Regions from separate parts of the Homo sapiens genome. Here all the other regions are linked to region 2. Evidence: fine-mapped expression QTL. A gene starts in region 2. Each other region holds a variant in brackets. All regions are shown on one strand. Distances are between the middles of the regions. Region 1 has its middle 30 kb from the start of FJX1. Region 2 holds the start of PAMR1 (peptidase domain containing associated with muscle regeneration 1). Region 3 overlaps PAMR1 (peptidase domain containing associated with muscle regeneration 1).

The links. PIP is the estimated chance that this variant, and not a neighbour inherited with it, causes the effect.
Region 1: its variant is fine-mapped to the expression of PAMR1 in fibroblasts (GTEx, PIP 0.97).
Region 3: its variant is fine-mapped to the expression of PAMR1 in nasal epithelium (TOPMed, PIP 0.96).

What each region holds. Positions count from the first base shown.
Region 1 is chr11:35,584,581-35,592,763 of GRCh38, forward strand. No RefSeq gene overlaps it. Among named protein-coding and RNA genes, the nearest start is that of FJX1, 30 kb to the right of the region's middle. The variant T/A (reference allele first, on the strand shown) is at 4,893.
Region 2 is chr11:35,522,149-35,530,297 of GRCh38, forward strand. PAMR1 (peptidase domain containing associated with muscle regeneration 1) reads right to left here and starts at 3,468. Exons shown (of 11, transcript NM_001001991.3): 1 at 3,365-3,468. The coding sequence starts at 3,437.
Region 3 is chr11:35,494,176-35,502,358 of GRCh38, forward strand. PAMR1 (peptidase domain containing associated with muscle regeneration 1) reads right to left here. Exons shown (of 11, transcript NM_001001991.3): 2 at 1-97. Among named protein-coding and RNA genes, the nearest start is that of PAMR1, 27 kb to the right of the region's middle. The variant G/A (reference allele first, on the strand shown) is at 3,272.

The DNA of each region.
Region 1 (8,183 bases), 62 kb after region 2:
AACACAAATTAAGGCCAAATAAGTTGATAGTATACGTATACTTTACAAAGGCAGTTTCCATAGTAGTTCAAATAAAGAGAAATTGTGGAAAAATGGGTCATCACATGGCACCCAGTAGCATAGACATGCCAAATTTAAAAGAATTAATGAGGCAGCAGTCAATATCATGTTTTCATTTGAAAGGTAATTTGGTTTCAGCAAAACAACATCATCCTTCCCATTAAATTAAGGTTGTTAAATTGGCTTTGTAGTTTTGTTTGAATTTAACTTGTATTGAATTATATAATTTAACTTGTTTTTGGTTTTATATATATATCAGAGCCATAAGGATAAATTTGAAAGTAGCATTATAATTAAACAATTTAAGTAAACACTGGGAGGAAAAGTGGAAATTGCTTTTTTCTTTCAAAAGGCTCCATTTATTACTAAAGATTAAGGGGCAGAGTTAACATGAAGATTTTCAAACAGTGATTTCCCCCTAGACTATGATTCTAGTAGACCCTAAATATTTTTACCCTGGAAATACTTGTTTTAGATCTTGTCCACACTCACCACTCAACCTCAATGCCTACTCAGTTGCTGCCCTCTTTAGAAAAAGAAGAAACATGGAATTGTGTAATATTTGCAGCATTTCATGAACCAAAGAAATTTTGCCCAAGAGGATGGGTAGGTTACTCTCTGATTGCTAGTTGATTTCTGTTGCTTGAAAGGACAGGAAAGTGAAAAGTTCCTTCCTTTTCCTCTTGTCTTACCCATGACTGCAGTTTCTAGGGTAACTGCCTGAAAAGGGCAATAAACATTCCAGCCCCCTAACGCAAAGGTGTAGAAAGTGACAAATAGAGGGGTTCTGCAGCAGTGCGTACATCAGTCTATCTGGTGCTTGGAGATCCTTTGGGATGAGAGGTACTACATAACTTTAAGTTATAGAGACGCTTAATCAACCATTCTCCCACTGACCTGTGTTCTGTCCGTGATTTACTGGCACCTCTGTTTACCTACAGGATAATGGTCCTGGTGGGGAAGAGTATGAGGAAATAAATGACTAGGTGGGTGATTAATTGTCCTCGCACAACACAGGGTCTGGTACCAAGATCATTATTTCTATTGTATGACAAGAAAGAAAGAAGGAACAGTGAAGCAGTGTGCATAAATAATGGGAGAAAGATTTCTTCATTGCTCAGGAAAGCTTTGCTGTCCCATTCTTTTCAGACTTTCTGAAGTGGCCTGTCCCGTAGTGTGAATTCTCATCTCTCTCTTGAACCTTCAAAACTGGTCTTCACCAATCCATTTGACATGGGGCTAACAGATATTTGGGGGATAGTTTCCATCCTATTCACTACCAAATGCAAAGGGAGTATGGAACTGTTACTTTGCCCTTTCTGGAGCTTAACAATGCAAGCCACCTCCTGGGAGACAGCTCTGGGTTCCAAAAATAAGAGGCAGGAGAGAAGAATATATATTTGGTTTGAATGAAAACTATGAGTAAGGGCAGAGCAATATGGAGAAGAGTTCAGGACCCAAAGGCATCAGCTTTCAGCATTTTATTTTAATTAACTAAATCAAGCATTTAGCTCAGTTGTTCTCAATCCCAGTACATATTAGAAACACTTCACTTGGGAGCCTCCAAAAAAATACCAATGCCCAGGTCTCACCTCAGACCAATTAAATCAGAAAGAGGCCAATACCTTAAAATAACTGACCAAATGGAAATGAAATTCCTGGTCCTTGAAAGTAACTCTTTAGGAGACTTGGAGCATTGATTTCATCAGAGAATCCCTCGCCTGTCTATAGAGAGCAGCGGAGAAGAGCAAAGCACAAGCTGCTGTGGACTGTTCCAACTTCAACATTACTGCTTCCAATAGGAGGAAATAAATCACTAAAGAACTGTGCCTTATTTTAACTAGCCTGGGCTTTAATAGCCCATCAGCTTTGGTTTAAATGCTTTTCGATAGCACTGAGCATTTGACCTTAAGCAAAGCACTTGGATTCAACCTTGACATTTACCATAATTAGACAAAGAAGATTTTGCTCATTAAATATTATTTTTGTTTCTTGGACCATGAACTGAATTGTGAATGATCTCCAGTTTCAGGCAATGCAATGGCATGACCCTCAGTTCCTTGCAGCTGATAGCAGCTACAAGTCCCAATCTGCCCTCAACGGAAGGCAGGAGGCAAGGCTAGCATTTCCCACAGGTTCTCTTTGCTACTTGCAGCTACTGAGAAATGTCACAGAGGCTGGCATCCACCAAAGGGAGGATGGGTAGAGGGTCAGAGAGGTAGGCGGCCCCATGCCAGTTCTCATGGATATGAACTTTAATGCCATGGAATCCCCACCCACTGAGATAAAGGAGTGGATCATTTTTGGCAATGCCCACCCAGTTCAAGTAGAAACTCTTAACTCCCTCCTCATCACAGCAGTGAGCCTTTGGCAGTTATTTTGTAAAATATTGCCTCAATCTTCTGCCATGATTGATTGGCCCAGATGTTGCCAATTCACTCAAGTTAGATTGAACAAAGTTCTCCCAGGAACTGGAAATGGAATCAAGAAAAAGAGAATATGACTTCGGATAACCAGACCTGTACAATGGACATGTTCCAGCCACCATGCAAATTGAGAAGCAGAGAAATCAAGGCTCCAGGAAAAAAGAAGAATGGAAGAAGAGATCAGAGGCAAGAGACCCAGATTGAGTATGGCTTGTGTGTGCCCTGATCCCTGATCTTGGTGCTTCTCCAAGCCCCATTTTGTTCCTGTTGTTGGCTTCCAAAAAAACATTCCTGTGTCTTTATAATAAACTCCCCTGCAAGAAAAAGTGAGCTTTAACTGATTTGTTTGTTCTTTCATTAAGGCTTAAATTTTTTAGAGCAGTTTAAGGTTCAAAGCAAAATTGACAGGAAGATATAGAAATTCCTTCTGCCTCCACAAATGCACAGCCTCCCCCACTATCAACATCCCCCACTGGAGTTTTCCATTTGTTACCATTGATAAGCCTACATGAACTCATCCTTATCACCAGAGTTCATAGTTTACATTACAATTTACATTTGGTGGTATATGTTCTATGGGTTTGGACATAGGTACAATGCATAGTATCAGCTCTACTCGTTTCACTGCCCTAAAAATCCTCTGTACTCTGTCTTTTCACTCCTCCCTCCCCCTCAACCCCTGGCAGCCACTAATCTTTTTACTGTCTTCATAGTTTCCCCTTTCCCAGAACATGAATCACACAGTATGCAGTCTTTACAGGTGGGCTTCTGTCACTTAGTAATATGTATTTAAGGTTTCTCCATGTTGAACCGGTTTTTGTTACTTACAAACATGACCTAAGCAAAGCAGATGGGGAAACATCTCTTCCCTGTTCCCTTCCTCAACATTGTTTATCTTCCCTCCTTTCTTGATGTGGTGTCCGGGGACCAGGTCACCCACTTAAACCCAAAATCTAGGCTGGGCATGCTGGCTCACACCTGTAATGCCAGCACTTTGGGAGGCCAAAGCAGACAGATCACTTGAGCCCAGGAATTTGAGACCAGCCTAGTTATCATGGTGAAACCCCTGTCTCTGTGAAAAATACAGAAATTAGTCAGGCGTGGTGGTGCACGACTGTAGTCCCAGCTACTCAGGAGACTGAGGTGGGAGGATCACCTGAGCACAGGAGGTCAAGGCTGCAGTGAGCCATGATTGCACCATTGCACTTTAGCATGGGTGACAGAGCAAGACCCTGTCTCAAAAACAACAACAGCAACAACAAAAATCCAGATGTAATCTCTAACTCTCTGGAAACTCCACCCACTGAGATAAGATAGTGGATCCTTTTCGGCAACATCTTTCCAGTTCACAATGAGACCCACAACTCCCTTGTGATGGCTAATTTTACGTGTCTACTTATCTGGGCCACAGTGCCCAGATATTTGGTACATTATTCTGGATGTTTCTGCAAAGATGTTTTTTGGATGAGATAGATTTTGAGTAAAGCAGATTACCCTCCATAATGTGGGTGGGCCTTATCCAAACAATGGAAGGCCTTAATAGAACAAAGACTGGCCTCTTCTCCCCAAGCAGAAAGGAATTCTGCTAGCAGACTGTCTTTCAACTCAAACTGCATCTCTTCTCTGAGTCTGCAACCTGCCGGCCTCCTCACGTCTCCCATCTAATTTTGGACTCACCAAGTTTCCACAATCATGTGAGCCAATTCCTTAAAATCTCTCCCCCTCTCTCTGTCTCCATATATTTACATATATAGCACACATCCATCCTGTTGGTTTTGTTTTTCTGAAGAGCTGGAGAACTCTGACTAATACATTCCTCCTCGTCCACAACAGCGTGCCTCTGGTTATTATTGTCTCAATTCCCTCCTTATATTTATTTGTGATGTTTTAGCATTGATATTAACTGACAATATGGAGGGAGTGTGGTGAAATGGAATGAACACTGGACCCCATTCAACTAATTAGTAGGGGTAATTAGTTGGGCAAGTCACCAATCCTGAGCAAGCCACTTAACTTCTCTGAACCTCCTCCTAGACTATAGTATTCCTGAGGGTCCTCCTAGTTTCATAACATCTCAATGGGAGGTGAGCCACTCCCTGTTCTGTTGGCCTTCACCAAGGCTTGGGACACACAGCTTGAGGTGCCTGTCCCTTTCTTTTCCATATTTTTCCTTGGTTGGAAATCTTGTTTCTGCTCCTATAATCCTTTTGTCATTTTGGACCTGGGAAAGGGAAGGCAAAGGGTAAAGAACAAGGAAGAAGGAGGATATGAGGACAGTTCTTGCTGGAGAGAAGGGGAAGATAGAAGGTGCTTTCCGTGGAGGGAGGAGCTGAGAAGAGGGCTGAAGAGAGGATGGGCAAGTGTGACAGTGTCCTGAATTCCCTCCCACAACCAAATCAAAACCCC[T/A]GGCTGGGCTGGGTGTGCGCATGCGCTAGGAACTTAAGGAAACTTTGGAGAAACCTAGCAAGACCATGGCTGGTGCTCTGCTTCCCCAGGTACAGCCTGGGAGAGCCACAGCCTGTGGGAAAAGTCTGCATTTCCAAAGGGTGCCGTGTACATCAGGTTTGGGTACTAATGGGCAGCATGGGCAGAAGTGGGTGCCTGTATAGCCAGGGCCTGAGATAGCCTCATTCTAGCCCACCCTAGCTCTCTCTTGGCTTCAGCAGAGCACAAAGAAGATCTGGAAAGTTCTCAGGGACCAATAAAAGGGATGGCGAAAGTAAAGAAGAATTAAGAATTGAGAAGCCTGCCTGCAAGTGCTCACTGAGACACAAGATGGGGAAACCCTGTAGCAGAAGCCACAGGGAGGTCTGGCCAGGTCTGGGGGTCTCAAGGAGCTTGTGACCATGTCTCAAAGGACCAGTATCACCAGCAAAATCTCAGGTGGCTGGAGTCAGCAGCAGAAGATGGCTGAAGTTGTATTCCATGGGCTGAGAGAACATTCACCAGGTCCACCAGGCTTCACATTGAGGCAAGGAAGGCTATTAAGGCCAGAAGCTGGGGCCCAGAGAACAGCAGCCCAGAGGACCACACACAGGTGCAGAACTCCTCCTCTCTGCTGTGAGGATATTTAAGGCTCTGCTTCCCTCCACTTCAGGTGCCATCTTGAAAAAGAGTAGAAAGCAACTTCTTGAAAAGAGAGAAACAGACTTGGTAGGAACCACTTCAGAATATTTGCCCAAAGGGAACTATTTTGAACTGGAAGAGACTGGGTTCTCTTTTATTGGCATGTCTATTTTTATTTGTGTTTTTCCCCCTACTTCTATGGGGGCTTCAGAGCAGAAGACAATCCATTACTAAAACAAAAGAAGCTCCTTTCTGGTTTTGCACACCTGAACTCTAGTGTGTAAAGCTTAGCCATAACAGAGGATTGAGAAGGGGAAGACTTTCTTGCCTCCATGCCTTGGAAGGAGAGGTGCTCTTCTCCCACCCTGCTGGGAGAGAGAAAGTCAGGGATGGCTCCAAGGATGCCAGCTACTTCTAGGATGTGACTCACTGTCCCTAAGGATACATCACTGTGATAACAAGCCAGAAATATGAGCATTGAGTTGCAGAAAGATGGCTTGAGTCCCTCCCTCCTCCTGATGCTATAGCAGGTTGCAGAAAGAACTGGGAGAGGCACCAGGGATCCTAGCTTATGGATGAAAGAGCTAAGCCAGGGAGTGGCCTCTCCCTGGTTGCTAAACCAACTGAGGGGCTCAACAGGGAGAGTGTGCCCTTGTCCCTGCTTTTGTCAGTTTCCTTACCTGTTACACTGAGACACTTTAGGAGTTGTTAGAGCTGAGGTTTTCAGAAGAGGTCCCAGGCTTGCCAAGTCGACAAGAGGAAAGATTGGAGGGTAGCCCATGGGAACCAATACTGCCTCTGCCATAGGTATGACACAGCTCAAAATCAGCTTGGAGAGCTCTCTGTGTCCAAGTGTGGTCCGGTTCTGCCTATTCTGTTGTCATCTTATATTACTCTTTTATCCCCTTAGACCTGTCACACTAGTCCATGGCTTTTCCAACCAGACCTATTATTTCTTGAGAATTATCTGAAAGTGAAAAGTTAGTTCTAATACTATCTCTTATAATGTACTTGCTAAAAATGCATCCCTAAAAACATGGAGCTTTCTACAATCTATCTATCTATCTATCTATCTATCTATCTATCTATCTATCTATCTATCTCTACCACCCTAGCTACTTCTGTTCTTACTAGCTACTGCTCAGACCCATGCAAGGACTTGAATCACAATTCCCCCCACGAATTCTGCAAATTTCATTTCTGTATGGTCATCACTCTTGTGTGCCTACAATGTGCAAGGCACAGTAGTAGACATTTGAAATATATCTTATTTAATCCTTACAATAGTCATGAGATGAGGGCAATCAGCCCCATTTTACAGAAGAAATGAAAACAGGAAAGGTTAGAAAGTGAGTAATTTGCAAAGGCAGGAGTCAAAAACATGGGTCTATCTTTAACCAAAGCCCATGCTCCTTCCATTATAATGCACTGCTTCCTTATTGCCTGCTCTTACCCCAAAGCTGCGTGTGGCCACACACCAATGCCTTCTCTCCATGCTGCTGCTGTTGCTTCTGCAGCTGCAAAATGAGAGCTCCCATGTAACCCTCTGATTTTTCACTGTCATTTTTGCGGAAAAATAACAACTTCTGGATTAAGTTCAGAACTGAACTGGACTTCACTAACTGGACTGAACTGAAAAAATCTCACTCTTCTTCAGAGACCCTTCATTTCTTGTTTCCATTATCAATTGCATCCACAACAATAGTGAAAACACGTCTGTTTATGTGTATGTGCAATATATATTCCTTTAGGTTGTCGACAAAAAGAAGACATAGAGAGAATTGAAATGTCTAAATGATTATATGACAGTTTATATTATGCCCCATTGCTGTCTCAGGAGAACTGTCCAAATATCAGTTACAGGGAGAAAATGACTTCACCAGAATGTAAATGCAAAACCAGCCAATGCTTTCCAGAATTTTGTCAACATATTTTAAACATCCTAATTATTGGACATATTACAGTTAGTCCATAAGGATGGCAAAGACCATTTTCCTTGTGCATCCTATTTCATCATTTATATTGGTAGAATGTGTACCTTCACTTTTAGAATAACGTCCCAGTTTTGTCCTTCCTGAACTTTTCCCTTCTTGTCACTGGTTATTTCTCTGTATCCTTCAGGTGGTTTTTGCTAAGTTCTTGAGGTATTACTTAATCGTGCCTTTCTGTCTTCCACGTTCTGAAGCAATTGAGAAGTATACAAAGGAATCAGAGGTCCTAATAATAGTGGTAATACTGGCTACCTGGTCTGGTGAATGGAAACTGTCCCTGTGATCTGAATGAGTTTTCTATTCCATACTGAGTTATACTTAGCCACCTTTTCATGGCCACAGCAGCTAAACAACTGGAAGCCTTTCCTCTTGAGGGCAGAGCTTGCCTTGGCAGACTCACCACATGAAAGAGGCAGGAACAGAAGGAAGAACCTATACCAGCTTCAGGCCATCTAACCTAAGAAAGGGAGCCACAGAGAGTATAACACTTAAAAAACCATTGCTGGCCAGGCACGGTGGCTCACGCCTGTAATCCCAGCACTTTGGGAGGCCAAGGCAGGTGGATCATGAGGTCAGGAGTTTGAGACCAGCCTGACCAACATGGTGAAACCCCATTTCTACTAAAAATACAAAAATTAGC
Region 2 (8,149 bases):
CCTGACCTCGTGATCTGCCCGCCCTGGCCTCCCAAAGTGCTGGGATTATAGGCATGAGCCACTGCGCCTGCCTCAAATCGTTTTTAAGTGCATGGTTCAGTGGCATAAGTACATTCATACTATTGTGCAACCATCACCACCATCTATCTCCAGAACTTTTTGCTATTCCACATTGAAACTCTGTACCCATCAAATAATAACTCCCATTCCATCTTCTCCTGGGCCCTGGCAATTACCACCCTACTTTCTGTCTACATGAATTTGACTATTCTAAGTACCTCATATAAGTGGCATCACAGAACATTTGTCTTTTTGTGTCTGGCTTCTTTCACTTAGCATAAGGTCTTAAGGTTCATCTGTGTTATAGCACGTATCAGAATATCCTTTATTTTTAAGGCTGAATAATATTCCGTCGTAGGTGTATACTGTATCTTGTTTATCAATGGACATTCGGGTTGTTTCCACCTTTTGGCTATTGGGAATAATGCTGCTATGAACATTGATGTAAACATATCTAATCAAGTCCCTGCTTTCAATTCTTTTGTGTATACACCCAGAAATTGAATTGCTAAATCAAATGGTAATTCTATGTTCAATTTTTGGGGGAACCATACTTGTATATCCTTAAACCTCTGTGTATCATAGAACCTCTCTGAACCTCATCTGTAAAACACGGATAATAACAGCAATGCCATTTCAGGGTGGTCTGAGAATTAATGCATATGAAGCCTTTGGCTCAAAGACTGGACACATTAATAAATGTTCACTAAATGTTTGCTTGATGTTTAATCTCTTCATCCTCTGAATTGAGGGACTCATACTAAAATAATTTCTAAAGTCACTCTCAGCTCCTAAACTCCATGATCCCATCATTAAATTATTTTCCTGTTGGGGATGCCAGGAGCTCTCAGATTGTATATTAGGGGAACACCCTCTTCATGATCCCCGCAAAAATCCACCCGTGCCAAGAAGGCCCAATTTTCCTAGCTTTCTCCTAGGAATTTGCCAACATATCCCAGTGTAATCTCACATCTCATTTTTCTTGCCACTCCTTCTCCCTTGCTTTCTTTCCATGTTTCCTTTCTCGGCTGGCTTTTCCTGCCCACTGAATATCTGCACTTCAAATTATCTTCCCTGGTTGCATTTATGTTCATTCCCCACAAGTTAATGTCTGTTGGAAGCAACACTTGTGAAGTTCTCCAGATTAAGTTTTCATTCCCAAGAGTCCCATATTTTAAATGAGGTTTTCCTCTTCGGCAGAATCACACTGGCAGAGCTACCGCAATTTGGTGAAGTCAGTGGAGTTGGGTTTCTCCCCTCATTCTGTTTATGTTGGGTTATCGCTTGGCCTCATGTTTGGATTCTCATCCTCCCAACATGTGTCACATGCCAGTGAGAAACAACACTCTCTGGTACCATCCCAGTGGATGTTTACAATTCAGCAAATACTCTTTTTAGAAAAGTTAATTAGAGGAAATACGCTTCCAAGCTTTTCTTGCCTGGGGCCAGATTCAGCATCCCAGCAGGGAGTGGACTTCCTTCACTCCTTGAGGAAATATTTTCCTTCTCCACGCTATTCCTCCGTCTTCCCTCGAAATGTGAGTAAAACATTCAACAACTAAAATATCCTTGCTAAACACATGAAGCTGCGCTCTGGTTCAGGCAGCAGTTTAGCTACCAACAAACTGCGTATCCTCTCTGAAGCTTTTTCACAGCCAAAGGTAAAAGAGGTTCTCGGGTCAGAAATAAATGGATTTTTCAGATTCTGGGCTAGGAAAAAGAGCCAGCTCAGGTTTTTTTATTTTCTTTTAAACTTTTATGGCTTTGAAGCGCCTCACCTGCCATGTAATAAAACAGGAAGCAGGGGAACGCTGATGTAACCCTGAGGAATCAAATCCACTGAGCCCTGGCACTCTGAGAAGAACCAGGTCCTCTGGAGCTGGTCCACCGACACCATGCAAAGGCGAAGATGAAGTAGGGAGGTGCCTTAATGCAAAGTCACCCACTTACCCCTAGGCAAGTGTTTAGGTTTATGGATTGTCAGCCCTTATGAAGGGCTCCTTCTTCCTTTATTATTGTCTTTGGGCTGCTCCAGACACCATGGAGGCAAAATTCAAATGAAACACTCACCATCTTTATTGTAAATCATTAAGGAAGATCCTACCTGGGCAGGCAGGCTCTAGGTAGATGGAAAGTATTGACCAAAATGAAGGGCAGGGGGGTTTGTGTATCTCAGCTTTTCGTTGATCATGAAGGGATGTGCCTATGGCTAAGTTTCCCTTCTACACAGGTTATTGCATTTAGTATCCTCCCCACCCGACCTGGCCTGTTTCATTCTCAGGCACTTGCCAGCTACTTGCAGCGGCAGAGCACCCAGCTCTCAGATAGAGTTCAGGTGACAGGTAACCAGCACAGAAGGGAAGCAGCGAAGGCTCGTACATAACCTGCCCCTATTCAGAGCTGCCCCGTTTGGTCATTTCTGTACATCTCGGCCTGCCCTCATCTCATGAGGTCTCACTTTACCCCCTGGGCCATAGAAGGACAGATGTTCCTATGACGTTCCCACTTCCCCGCCTGCCAGCAAGCAGGATCTGCCATGTCCTCGCTTCTGCCCTTAGCTGGATCTCCGTATCATGTCCCAGCCTCATTTGTCCCCAGAAGCCCATTTGACCTGGGGATTGTGGCTTAGAAAATGATATATGAAAACCAAAGAAGCCAGAGCTCTTTCAAAACAAACCCTATGCATCCCAGAAACAATCTGCACTTTTAACCTTGGCTTTTTCTTCTTTCTCACTCTCATCAGAAAGGAAGTGTGTCTATATATGCTGAGTGAGTCAATCTCCTGTGCTTGGATCTACTCCGAAGGGGTATGGCTGTAGGAGTTCGTGAAGCAAGATTCACCAGAAGAACACCAAGCAAGCCCTGCTCTTTATTCCTTTCTTTCTTTCCCTCTCTTCTTTCTTTCTTGCTCACCTCTGAGGGAGCCCTTTCCAAGAGAAACTTCGCTTTTGCAAGTCAGAGCGGGTAACTCAGAATTGATTCCCTAAGGCAATTTGGTACTTTTAAAATGATAAAAAGAGCAAATAAAATAGGAGCTGGTCCGCTTTCCTGAGACAGTACAGCCCCACGATTTGGGATGACAAAACCACGTCACAGTCTCAGGGAGGGCCACAGGAGCTCCAGCACCACCAGCCAAGTCCCTAAAATTATCACTGGAAAAGCACCACCCCCCCTCAACCCCTCACCCCAAACACACACAGCCCACCTCCTGAGACTCCCAGTCCTGCTCCCAGGCAGACCCCAGGAGGAAAATGCTCCCTCCTAGGGTGTCCTCCTAGGGTGTCCCGGACGCTACTCACAGTACCTCTTGGCAAGGACGAGATGAGAAGGAGCTGAAGAAAAGTGAGCCCCAACTGCGTCCAGCAACCCAGCTCCATCCTTGCCGCGGCTGGTGCCCGAGCGTCTACTGGGGAGGGAGAGGAGGGACCCAGGGAGGCCGGGGGCAGGCGGGTTTTACAGGGACCTCCCCGAGCCCCAGCTGAGCGGGAGCTCGGGTTTCAGCTCGCCAGGCTCTCCCATCCTCATCTGAGGGGAACCACCTTCAGCCAGAGCGACGTCAGCCCAAACCTCTCCTCTCTGCTGCCTTAACCCTTGCGGGGCCCCGGGAGGTGTGGCCACGCCTGGAGACCCGCGGACGGCGGCTGCAAAGGAAGCTGCGGGGGAGGGAGGCCAGCCTGGGTACAGGTGGGGTCCCAGTGTTGGGTGCTGGGAGGAGGGGCCATAGGACCCTGGGCGGGAGCAGAGGTACCCAGGGCTGCGGGGCGCTCAGGTGAGGCCGGGAGATCTTCCTACGGGAGGCTGAGACGGGAGCTGGCTTTGCCCTCTCTGACTGCACGCGGGGAGCCTGATTAAAAGCCTGGCCTGAGGAGAAGGAGGAGTTGGTGATGGGAGGAGAAAGGGAGCCTCCCTCCACTCCGCACGCAACACTCCTCGTTTATCTCCTTTCCTCTCCGTTTGCTCCAGGTGATCACAGGTTGGAAAGCTTATTATCTTTTGCAACTACAGGCTACTGGAAAAAGTTTTCCTCTTCCTATGATCCCCGTCATGGTGAATTCAGCGACATAAGCAGCTCCTGAGCTACTGGAAAAAGTTTTCCTCTTCCTGTGATCCCCACGATGGTGAATTCAGCAACATAAATAGCTCCTGCGCACACGCCAGGCAGGGATGGCGAAGAACACACAAGAACCCTCACTGCCTCCACCAAAAGGGCTCAGTTTAGGTACAAGATAGCAAGTGACATCTCGAAATGAGGAAGAAGGATGTTTCATAATAGGTGACTTTTTAAAATAAACTCCTCCGTGCCAGGTGTCATGTACCTTACATGTATTAACTCAATTATTCCTCACAATAAACCTAGCCTCTGTATTTTACAATTAGAGAAACGGAACCATTGAGGATTACAATAACTCATCCAAGGCCACACAGTTAGTGAGGGGCAGAGCCAGGGTTTGAACCCGGGCAGCTTAGGCCCACAGGCTATAGTCTTAGCCACTAGGCTATAGAGCTTCTTAGGATGCTACATATGCAGAATTGTATTTCACCATTTGATATGGCTTCGCTGTGTCCCCACCCAAACCTCATCTTGAATTGTGGTTCCCATAAACCCCACGTGTCATGGGAGGGACCAGGTGGAGATAATTGAATCATGGGGACAGTTACCCCCATAAAAGTTTTAATTTTGTTCTCTAGATGTTGGCGGGCCCTGGTGGTTTACAAGTAGGGTGTGCTGAGCTCAAAGCAAAGTCTCGGGAAGAGAAGTCACCCTGGACTATTGATGAAGGCCTGGAGTAAGGATTAAGAAATGGAAGTGGAAGGGAAAAGATAAGGGGAGAAACCTGAGGAAGGTAGAATCTGTAAAGCTCAGGACAGATCAGAAGGTCAGGAGCCCTGACACAGGTGCTCTACTAGAAAGAATTTCTGAACTCCAGCCCTGCTTCTGGGGGCCTATTGCAGTGAAGTGACTGGAAGCAAGAACTCAGCAGGCCTGTGTTCTAATTTTGTTGATTCACCACTTTCTGGCTGTGTGACCTTAAGCAAGTTAACTCTCTGAATCTCAGTCTTCTCATCTATAAAATGGAAATAATAATCAAACCTACTTTGTAGATCACTGGAAGAATTTAATAAGATTACGCATGTAAGGCCCATAGCACAGAGCCTACCACATATTAAGTGCACACTAAATATTAATCATTATCTCTATTATCTGACCTGAGACTGCCCCCAAGAACATCTCATGGTATGAGTCTTGTTCCTACACTCAACTTCCATATCGAGATGAAATCAGTTAAAATAAGCACCAAGAGTAGCCTTAAACAGGAGCAGAATACCAGAGGGCAGCATATACCTAAGAGGTAGAGGGCAGAGGTTCGAAGAAGGGAGGTTCACCTTGTTGCTGGCCAACCAGTCCTGGTCCTTTGGTGATGGGAGTGGGAAGAAGATGACTTAGTTCCCAAATAACTGTAGGCATAAGAGCCTCTCAGGAGTCTGTTTCAACTCCAGCTGACGGCACCTGAGCTTTACAGATTCTACCTTCCTCAGGTTTCTCCCCTTATCTTTTCCCTTCCACTTCCATTTCTTAATCTTTACTCCAGGCCTTCATCAATAGTCCAGGGTGACTTCTCTTCCCAAGACTTTGCTTCGAGCTCAGCACACCTTACTCCTAAACCACCAGGGCCCACCAACATCTAGAGAACAAAATGAAAACTTTTATGGGGGTAACTGTCCCCATGATTCAACTATCTCCACCTGGTCCTTCCCATGACACGTGGGGTTTCTTTTCATCTTCCCTCTCCCCACCTCCCAGCCCCCACCACACACACCTCTCTGAGTCAATACCAAGCAGCCTCATCCCTACATGAATTGCATCCCCCTGACAGAATGGGGCTCTAAGTGATGAACCTGAAGGATAGCAGTCTATACCACCCCCAAATATGCCCCTTTGGCATAAGGATTATTTTGAGCTGAAAGCAGTTAAGAAGAAGTAGATACAAGAATAGGTCTCTGTTCTCCCCCCATTTTCCTAAAAGCAGACTTGAATTTATAAAAGTATAGTGTCTCCACCTCCCCTCTCTACCAGGACGGACAGAAGTTAATCATTGGAGACAACCCTAGACCCTTATCAGCCCAGAGGAATCTACATACCAAAACTTACTAACTAGTCTTATCTCCCATTAGGACCCCCATTTATTTATCTTCCCATAATTTGCTACCCCTAGAAGCTCAAAGTCCTTTTTGTTTGTCTTGCCACTTCTCTGCAAATTTATTGTTCTTTTTAAAAATGCAATATGAACCCAAATTCTAACCATCTCTTTGAGTTACTCCTCACTAGGTATTTCAACATGTAAGCACCATGCACAAGTTAATAAAAAACTTTTGTTTGTTTTTCTCTTGTTAATCTGTTTTTTCTTTTTTTTGTCATTCTAATTTACAGGGCCACAGCCAAGGAATCTAAGATGGGTAGGGAAGAAAGATTATTTTTCCTTCCCAACAAACCTGTTTGGCTATTTGCTAAGGAAGTCCCTGGTACCAGGTCTTTACTTCTCTAGGTTCAGGGGTCTGGAAACAGAGGCCCTTCTTCTGTTTCTGGAATCCCCTTCAAGAGTTGATTTGTTAGTTTGTTGTCACTAATTTGGGTTTGTAAATTTCCTAGAGCTGAGGACCTGGAAAGAAACTCTCAAAAAGATGCTCTGCAAAGGTGGAGGATGTATTTTTCTGGAGAAGTCAAAGCAGTAATCAGATATTACCTTGTTGAACTGCACAATAATCCCAGGGCTGGAAGAGAAAGAGGAGAACTGTTATTATGACACAGAAAAGTCAGTAGTTTACTGAGGACATTCAGCCCTACACAAATTTCTGTTTTCCTACACAAGTTTACCTTTCTCTGTCCCCATTATGGTCAACTGCATTTTTCATATTGATAGAGTTTAGTATTGTTCTAAATCAAGGATTCTTAATCTGGAAGCTCCTGGTTGAGATGGGGTTTTTTGAGGGACTTTGAATCTTCCAAAATCATATGCAAATTTTTGCATGCAGGTTTTTGAATAAGAGGGAGCCATAGCCTTCTCATTTGCAAACTCCCAACTTTTTTAGAATCACTAATCTTCGTAAGTTAAAATTGAAAAATGGACCAAATATTTCTCAGATTTGGGGAAAGTGATTTTGTGAATATATACAATCATTGAGTCTAGGCTATAAACTGCACAGTGGACATTTGGAGGGCCCTCTCACCTCCTCCTCACCTTTAAAAAACTATTTCTGACTTAAGAGCACTTGCTCTGGACCATACTGACTAATGTTGAATGCAGATGGACCACTCGCTACCTGTGTACACTTGGGCATGTTATTTCACATATGATGGCCTTGGTTTCCTCATCTGTTAAGTCTGAAGAATAGTACCTGTTGCCATTAGGGCTAGAGTAAAGAGCTCAAAACAGTGCCTAAAATATACTAAGATATCAGTAAATGTTAACTGTTTCTGTGATGCTTATCTCCCCCTCTGCCCTCACCTCCTACCACTGCTTGCTTCGGGGAGAATAAATCACAAGAAAGGCTGTGTATGAAAAAGACAAAGTGGCATGCTGGGAGATAGGGCATGATACCTGGAATTAAGAATTATCTACTAATAATCAGCATCAGGAATAAAAAATTGGCTGTAATAGACAGAGTCAGGCCACCCATTTAATTACAAGTCATAATACCCACTAATTTTCACATGGTACCTTTTTCAGTGCCACCAGGGAGGCTGGTTGCATGTGAATCCACAGGGAGAAACAGCAGAGGAGACTGTCTTTGTGAATTCTTACAGTTCCCTCTATCTCCCAGCTATCACTTCTGCAGATCAGCAGCTAAGCAGCAACCACACACTGGGAAAGCCAGAGGAAACAGGCCAGAGGTAGAACTGGTCTGCAAACCTATAAGAGGCATCCCAGACTTCTGGTAATTAAGTTTGGTTTCCATCAGCTGTGCAAAACACCAAGTTCAAGTCAGCCAAGGCCAGAGATGGAGAAGGGCAGGATTGTGGAAAAGACAAAGGGCCCTTCCACTGGAGCCTGCTGTAACTGGCCCCTTCATGGAAGTCTCCAGCCCTAAT
Region 3 (8,183 bases), 28 kb before region 2:
CCGGGGCAGACGCACTCAATCTGATCATATTCACAGCACTCCCGACACATGATATTCCACTCTGCTCCAGGGCAGGCTTCATTAATGACTGTGTACTCTGAAATGGAAAACCAGCAGGTGAGGCTAGGTCCTGGCAGGGAGTGGTAAGACTCTTTGTTTGTTTGTTTGTTTGTTTTGAGACGGAGTCTTGCTCTGTCGCCCAGGCTGGAGTGCAGTGGCGCGATCTCGGCTCACTGTAAGCTCTGCCTCCCGGGTTCACGCCATTCTCCTGCCGCAGCCTCCAGAGTAGCTGGGACTACAGGCGCCCACCACTACGCCAGGCTAATTTTTTGTATTTTTAGTAGAGACCGGGTTTCACCGTGTTAGCCAGGATGGTCTCGATTTCCTCACCTCGTGATCCACCCGCCTCCGCCTCCCAAAGTGCTGGGATTCCAGGCGTGAGCCACCGCACCCGGCCCAGGGAGTGGTAAGACTCTTAAGTACTCTACTGCTAAGAGGCAACCTTGCCCTATAAATGCATTGCCCTGCCCGAATGAGAAAGAAGACCCATGTGAATTCTTCCCAGGCCAATGTCTCCAAAGTAGGGAGACCTACCCCAAGGAATATTTAAAACCACGCATGGGAGCATAGATGAAGTTTGTTATAACTGCTATTCATTTTTATTTTTATCTTTAAAAAAAGAAATCAAGTTTCATCAATATATAATCTAGGTGGATTGACAATAGAACCTGTATATAATTTATAAACCAGCACACATCTCTTAGGTGTCTATGCTTATTTATATTTTTGTTAGAATACATCAGGCCACTGTTTACGACTACATAGGTTGTGCACTGCACAGATCCATAGCGAGCCATTAAACTGCATGACTACATACTGCAGCCCAGGCATGTGGCCATCAGAAAATTTGGAGACCAGTCTCCACACCAGGTCATTCAAGTGCAAGGCCAATTGCCAAGTAGAGACTATGTCATTTCTTCCAAACTTGGCCCCTCAGTTTTTCAGCGTGCCATTTTCATAGTACCTTCAAAGCGAAAACCAATAGAAAAGACAAAAAATACCTTAATTAGTATGTTTGGGAGAATTTCACTGTTTTACAATGGTGAACTCATTAGCCCAACTTCATTCAGGCGCCAAGTGCAACTGAGTGTTCTTTCTCATAAGAAAAAAAAAAAAAATCCCTTTCTGGGCAGGATTCTTTCCTTCTCATTTTCTTTTTTTATATATACCTTCAGTAAAGAGAAAAACCATCTGGCAAAACCTATAAGAGGAATCAGTCAGAGGCTGCCCAGAAGAAGTCAGGCTAAGAAACAGACCTTCTAGTTTTGATTTCCTCTTCTTTTTCCCCACTCTCTATTTCTAAAAATTTTGCACAAAGATGACAATTACAGCTGAAATGAATTGGATATTTGAGGAAGTGAATCCGGACAAGATCCCCACAAAACCTTCCCAAGAAACTCCAGGCAGGGATCACCAGCATGCTTCGTAGGCCCGCATAAATGAATTCTAGCACCTGCAGTGGCTTCTAAACCCTTGAATTTCATAGTTTCCTCCCCAAATTAGGAAGTGTGACACAGGGTTGATCACTCTCAATTTTCCAAGTAGAGCCATTTAAATAAACTATCATCATCTATCTTAGCCTCAGGTCATAAGAACATGCTAATATCATAGAAGGCAGACACTCGCACAATGAGGGACAGTTATTTAAATGGAATAAATTTAGTTTCATGAAAATTTGACTTTTTAAATCATTTTTCCACAAATTAGTGGGCCAGAAAAGATCCTTACATTGGTGTTTGGGAATGAATGGCTACATCATCATAGCATAATCGCCACTGAGATTTCTTTCCACCACTACTGTCTGAGCCCCTTCAGGGTGACCACCATGACTTACTTAGCTGCGCTTCCCATGTCTCTGATGTTTTACTGACAAAGTGAATGACTTCTAAAATCTGGATGAGAATTTAATGGTTAAAAGTGAGGAACAGCAGAAGGAAACATAGGAGTAAATCTCCATCCATGATCTTGGATTTGGCTATGGATTCTTAGACATGACACCAAAAGCAGGAGCAACAAAATAAAAATGAATTAGACTTTATCAAAATTAAAAATGTTTGTGCAGCAAAGGACATTATCAAATAAGTGAAAAGACCACCCACAAAATGGGAGAAAATATCAGAAAATATTTCTGATAAAGGCTTGATATCCAGGACATATTTCTAAAACTCATACAACTCAACCATAAAAAAGACAACATAGTTTTTTAAATGAGCAAATGACTTGAATAGACATTTCTCCAAAGAAGCTATATAAACGGCCAACAAGCACACAAAAAGATGTTTAACATCACAAGTCATTTGGGAAATGCAAATCAAAATCACAATGAGCTACCACTTACTAGGGTGGCTATGATCCAAACCAAGGGAAAAATGGAAAACAAGTGTTGGCAGAGAAGTAGAGAAATTGGAACCCTTGTATATTGCTGATAGAAATGTGAAATGGTGCAGCCCCTATGGAAAACAGTTTGGCAGTTCCTCTTAAAGCTAAACAGAATTGCCCAGCAATTACACTTCTAGGTATAGATCTAAAAAATTGAAAACAGAGACTCAGAGATACTTGTATGCCAATGTTCATTCACAATAGCCAAAAGGTGGAAACAACTCAATTTTCCATCAAGAGACAAATGGATAAACAAAATGAGGTACATGGGCTGAACGCAGTGGCTCACACCTGTAATCCCAACACTTTGGGAGGCTGAGGCAGGCAGATCACTTGAGGCCAGGAGTTTGAGACCAGCCTAGCCAACATGGTGAAACCTCATCTCAACTAAAGATACAAAAAATTAGGCGGGAGCAGTGGTGCACACCTGTAATCCCAGCTACTTAGGAGGCTGAGGCACGAGAATCGCTTGAACCCAGGGGCAGAGGTTGCAGTGAGCCAAGATTGTGTCATTGGACACCAGCCTGGGAAACAGACCAAGACTCTTGTCTGAAAATAATAGTAATAATAACAAATAATATAAAAAATAAAAAATGAGGTACGTGCATACAATGGAATATTATTCAGCCATGAAAAGAAATGAGGAGCTGCTAGGTGCTACAATGTAAATGAACCTTGAAATCATGCCAAGCAAAAGAAGCCAAACACAAAAGGACAAATATTGTCTGATTCTACTTAAATGCAATATCTACAATAGGCAAATTCATAGAGACAGAAAGTAGATTAAAGGTTACCAGGAGCTGGGGGAAAGCTGAATGGAGAGGTGTTGCTT[G/A]ATGGTTACAGAGTTTCTGTTTGGGGTGGTGAACTAGATACAGGTGATGGTTGCACAATCACAGGAATCTAATTAACGCCACAGAATTATACACTTAAAATGGCTAAAATGGCACATTTTCTTAGCCTTCTCTATCCTTCCACTCCTCCTCTGATTATCTGCACTGGGCTTTAATTACCCCTTAGCTCTCCCTTCATTGTACATTTATATCTTCCTATAGGTAAAATGTTTTTGTGTGTCCATAAACCCTAAGACCATGTTGACCACTCTGAATTTTCAATAAATAGTGATTGATCAACTATAACATGTCACTGTACTGATATTTATTACTGTACTACATTATAACATTCAACTTCTCTTCTTTCTCATTGCAAGTAAAATATCTAAAAATTATAACTCAATACAGCTTTCTTTTTTTATATATATAGCTTCTTTTTAACATAGAAAAAAATCATATTTTCAAAGGCTGAGAGAATGAAGGGAAGCCATCCAGTTAGAAAGGATAGCATACCCAAAGGCCACAGGATGGAAATAAACACAGGCCATATGCACAGGACAAAAACCAAGCTTACTTGAAAGTAGCAAAGACTATGAATCCTGTGCAAGTTCTTGTTTACATCACATGCTCCTACCTGTGCCAAGTTTTCCTAGTGGAATGTGTGTTATTAATAATATGCTGTAGTTTTGTAAATCCATGTGGTATAGCCCATTATTCAAATTATTCAAATTTTGGTATTTGTGATACCAGAAAAGGGCACATTTTATGTTATCTACATATATATTACCACAATTTTTTAATTGTGAAAAGTCGAGGAGGGAGAGTGAGAGAGAACAAATTGGTTAGAGGCTCAAACATGGGAGTCAACAGACCTGCATTTGGAATCTCCCTCTGCTACTTGCCTTGGCAAAGCTACGTTACTCTCTCAGTCTCAGTTTAGTATCCAGTAAAATGAGTGTACATTTTCTCCAATTTAGGCCTGTTGAAAATACTAGACAAAATAATGCATATAAACAGCTTAGCACAGCACCCAGTATGTACTAAACATTCAGAAACTAATAGCTTAGAAAGAAAAAAAGAAAAACAATAGAGAATGCTCATATTTCTCAAGGATATGGTTTTTTACGTATGTCAGATCAATTTCTTGCTTAAAATGGTCACCTTGCTTCCCATCGCTTTTGCAGTAACCCTCAAATTCTCTGCCCCAGCCCACAAGGCCTTTGAGGCCTATGCTCACCCGACTCCGTCCACCTTTTCCTGGCCACTGTTTCCCACCTTCTCTCCATTTCTCAAAACCACCAAGCTCTGGCCCACCTTGGGACTCCACATTTGCTTCTCCCAAGGCCTCCGTCTCAGGCCTTCACGTAAATGACGCCTGTTCAGAGAGGTCCTCCCTGGCCTTCCCCTCCAAAATGCACACCCCTTCGATCCCATCCGTGGTTATTTCTGTCTCACTATCCTATGTGTTTCCTTTCCTGGTCCTTACCACAGTTGAGAATCGTTTTCTGTTCTCATTTACCTGCTGACTGTCTGCCTCCCTTACATGCCCATAAGCTAACAGGAGCCACATCAAACCTGTTCACCACTGCCAGGGCAGGGCTGGCTGGCACACAGAGGTGCTGAATAAATATCTGTTGAATGAATTCGGCCTGAACTTAAGAGCTACCCTTCCTTCACTAGTCAAATATTTCCATCCAGTGGGTTCAGCTTGGAGCCATGAGCCAGGAGAGCCAGCTTTGCCTCTAACTTGTTGATACCAGAGCTGGGTGCCTTTCCTCCCACAGCGAGGTATCTAGACATGGGGGTCCAGGTGGCCTGCCTTGGGTTCATATTTCTGGACTCCAGCCCCCACCCTGTACAGATGTATGTTCGTTCCACTCTCTGAACAGCGAATATGCCCATGGGGTGTGGCTCATGCCTCACCCCCTCCCTCTATTCACCCTGCGGCAAGCACTACATCCTTCTAGGTTTTCTAATAATTTTGTAAATACTAATAACTCAAGGGAGGACACCAACAGGATAAATAATTTGCAACTTTTATAAGATTCTGTACATCAACATGGAAGGCCATTTAAGGTTTGTTCCACTCCCTGTTTCCCCCTAAGCAGCAGATTCGTTCACCTCCGGCCTGTCACATGCCAGGGGTCTCCCTTTTACCCAGGAATTAATTCCCTAAAATAGCTTTATTGGTATTTCTCTTTACTCCAGTGAGCAAGCCCACCTCAGCCCTCTTTACTCCATTACTGTTTACTCTATAGATAAGATCCATTTCTCTTTACTCCAATGAGCAAGCCCACCTCTGCCCTCTTTACTTCATTATTATTTACTTTATAGGTAAGATCCATCTCAGTCTAAGGGAATGACCCCAGGGAATCCTGGCAGAAGGGATTTTACAGATGTGACTAGTTTAAGAATTTTGAGATGAGAGGCATATGCTGTAATATCCAGGTGGAACCAATGTAATCACAAGGCCCCCCGTAAGAGGGAGGCAGGATGGTCAGAGTCAGAAAGGAGGTGTGCCGACAGAAATGGAGGTTGGAGTGATGTACTTTGAAGATGGACTGTAGAACCACAACCCAAGGAGGCAGGCAGGCAACCTCTAGAAGTCTGAAAAGGCAAATAAACAGCTTCTCCTGTGGAGCATCCAGAAGGAATGCAGCCCTGCCAACCCTTTGATTTTAGTCTTGTAAGATTCATTTTAGACTTCTGACCTTCACGGCTGGAAGGTAATACATGTGTGCTGTTTTAAAGCCCTAAAGTTGTGGTAATTTGTTACAGTATCAGTAGGGGACTAACATACTGGGACTTCTTGAAAGAAAGGTTAGCCCACAGCAAGTCTTTGAATCACTCTGTTCCTCATTTTCTCCACTGAGCACAATGCCAAGAGCAAGGGTGAATCGATGAACTCATTCTTTTGTTTTTCAAGTATTTATTGAGTGTTGACTACATCCTAGGCAAGAGATGGGGCGCTGGAATACAATAGAAAAAAAATAGACATCATCACTAGCCTGATGGTGCTCACAGTTCAATAGAGAAGACATTGGTCAAACGACCCCACAAATACATAATCATAAACCACAACAGGGAAAACTTAGAATGCTATAAGAATGAATGAGTGGTCATGAAGGGGCATTAGCACCAAATCTACCGACCTCGTCGGGTTAGGGAGGTTTAAATAAAATTACAGAAAGAAATCCATCTACAGCTATGCATCACTTAATGACAGGCATACGTTCTGTGAAATGTGTCATTAAGCAATTTCATCGTTGTGTGAACATCAGAGTGTATTTACACAAATCTAAGTGGCATAGCCTACTACACACCTACACACAGGCTACAAACCTGTACAGCATGTTACTGTACTGAATACTATAGGCAATTGTAATACAACAGTAAGTACTGGTGTATCTAAACATATCTAAACAGAAAAAATATGGTATAAAAGATTTAAAAAATGGAACAGCTATATAAGGCACTTACCATGAACAGAGCTTGCAGGACTGGAAATTGCTCTGGGTGAGTCAGTGAGTGGTGAGTGAATGTGAAGGCCTAGGACATCACTGTACACTACTGTAGACTTTATAAACACCATACACTTAGCCCACACTCAATTTATCAAAAATATTTGCTTCAGTAATAAATTAACCTTAGTTTTCTGTAACTTTTTAATTTTATAACCTTTTTTTTTCTTTTTTTTTTTTTTTGAGACAGGGTCTCACTCTGTCACCCAGGCTGGAGTGCAGTGGCACAATCTCGGCTCAATGCAACCTCTGTTTCCCAAACTCAAGTGATCCTCCCACTTCAGCCTCCCAAGTAGCTGGAACTGCAGGCATGTGCCACCAGGCCCAGCTAATTTTTGTATTATTTTTGTAGAGACAGGGTTTCATCATGTGGCCCAGGCTGGTTTTGAACTCCCGGGCTCAAGTAATTCACCTGCTTTGGCCTCCCAAAGTGTTGAGATTACAGGTGTGAGCCACTGCACCCAGCCAATAAACTTTTTAGTGTTCACTTTTTGAGTCTTTTACAACAGCTCAAAACACAAATACAAGTACAGTTGTACAAAAATATTTTCTTTATGTTTTTATACTATATGTTTTTTCCTGTTTTTAATTTAATTATTATTATTTTTTTTTTACTTTTTAAACTTATTTCTTGAAAACTAAGACACAAACATACATATTAGCCTAGGCCTACACAGGATCAGGATCACTGCTCCCACATATGAGTAAGAACACGCAATATTTATGGTTCTGTGCTTGCTTATTTCACCTAACATGATAACCTTCAGTTCTATCCATGTAGCTGCAAATAAGAGGATTTCATTCTTTCGTATAAATAAATAATATTCCCTTATATATAGGCACCACATTTTCTTTCACCAATCATCCACCGATGGGTACTTAGGTTGATTCCATATCTTGTCTATAATGAATAGTGCTGCAATAAACATAAGAGTGGAGATGTCTCTTTGATATATTTCCTTTTGGATATATTCCCAGTAGCGGAATTGCTGGATCACATGGTAGTTCTATTTTTAGTTTGCTGAGAAACCTCCATACAGTTTTCCATAATGGCTGCACTAATATACATTCCCACCAACACTGTACCAGGGTCCCTCTTTATGTCTTCACCAGCATGTTATTGCCTGTCTTTTTGATAAAAGCCGTTTTAACTGGGTTGAGATGATATCTCATGGCGGTTTTCATTTGCATTTCTCTGCATTTTTTTCATATACCTGCTGGCCATTTGTATGTCTACTTTTGAGAAATGTCTATTCAGATCTTTTGCCCATTTTTAAATTTAATTAATTAATTAATTAATTTTTAAGTTCTGGGGTACATGAGCAACATGTGCCGGTTTGTTACATAGGTAAACATGTGCCATGATGGTTTGCTGCACCTATCAATCCATCAC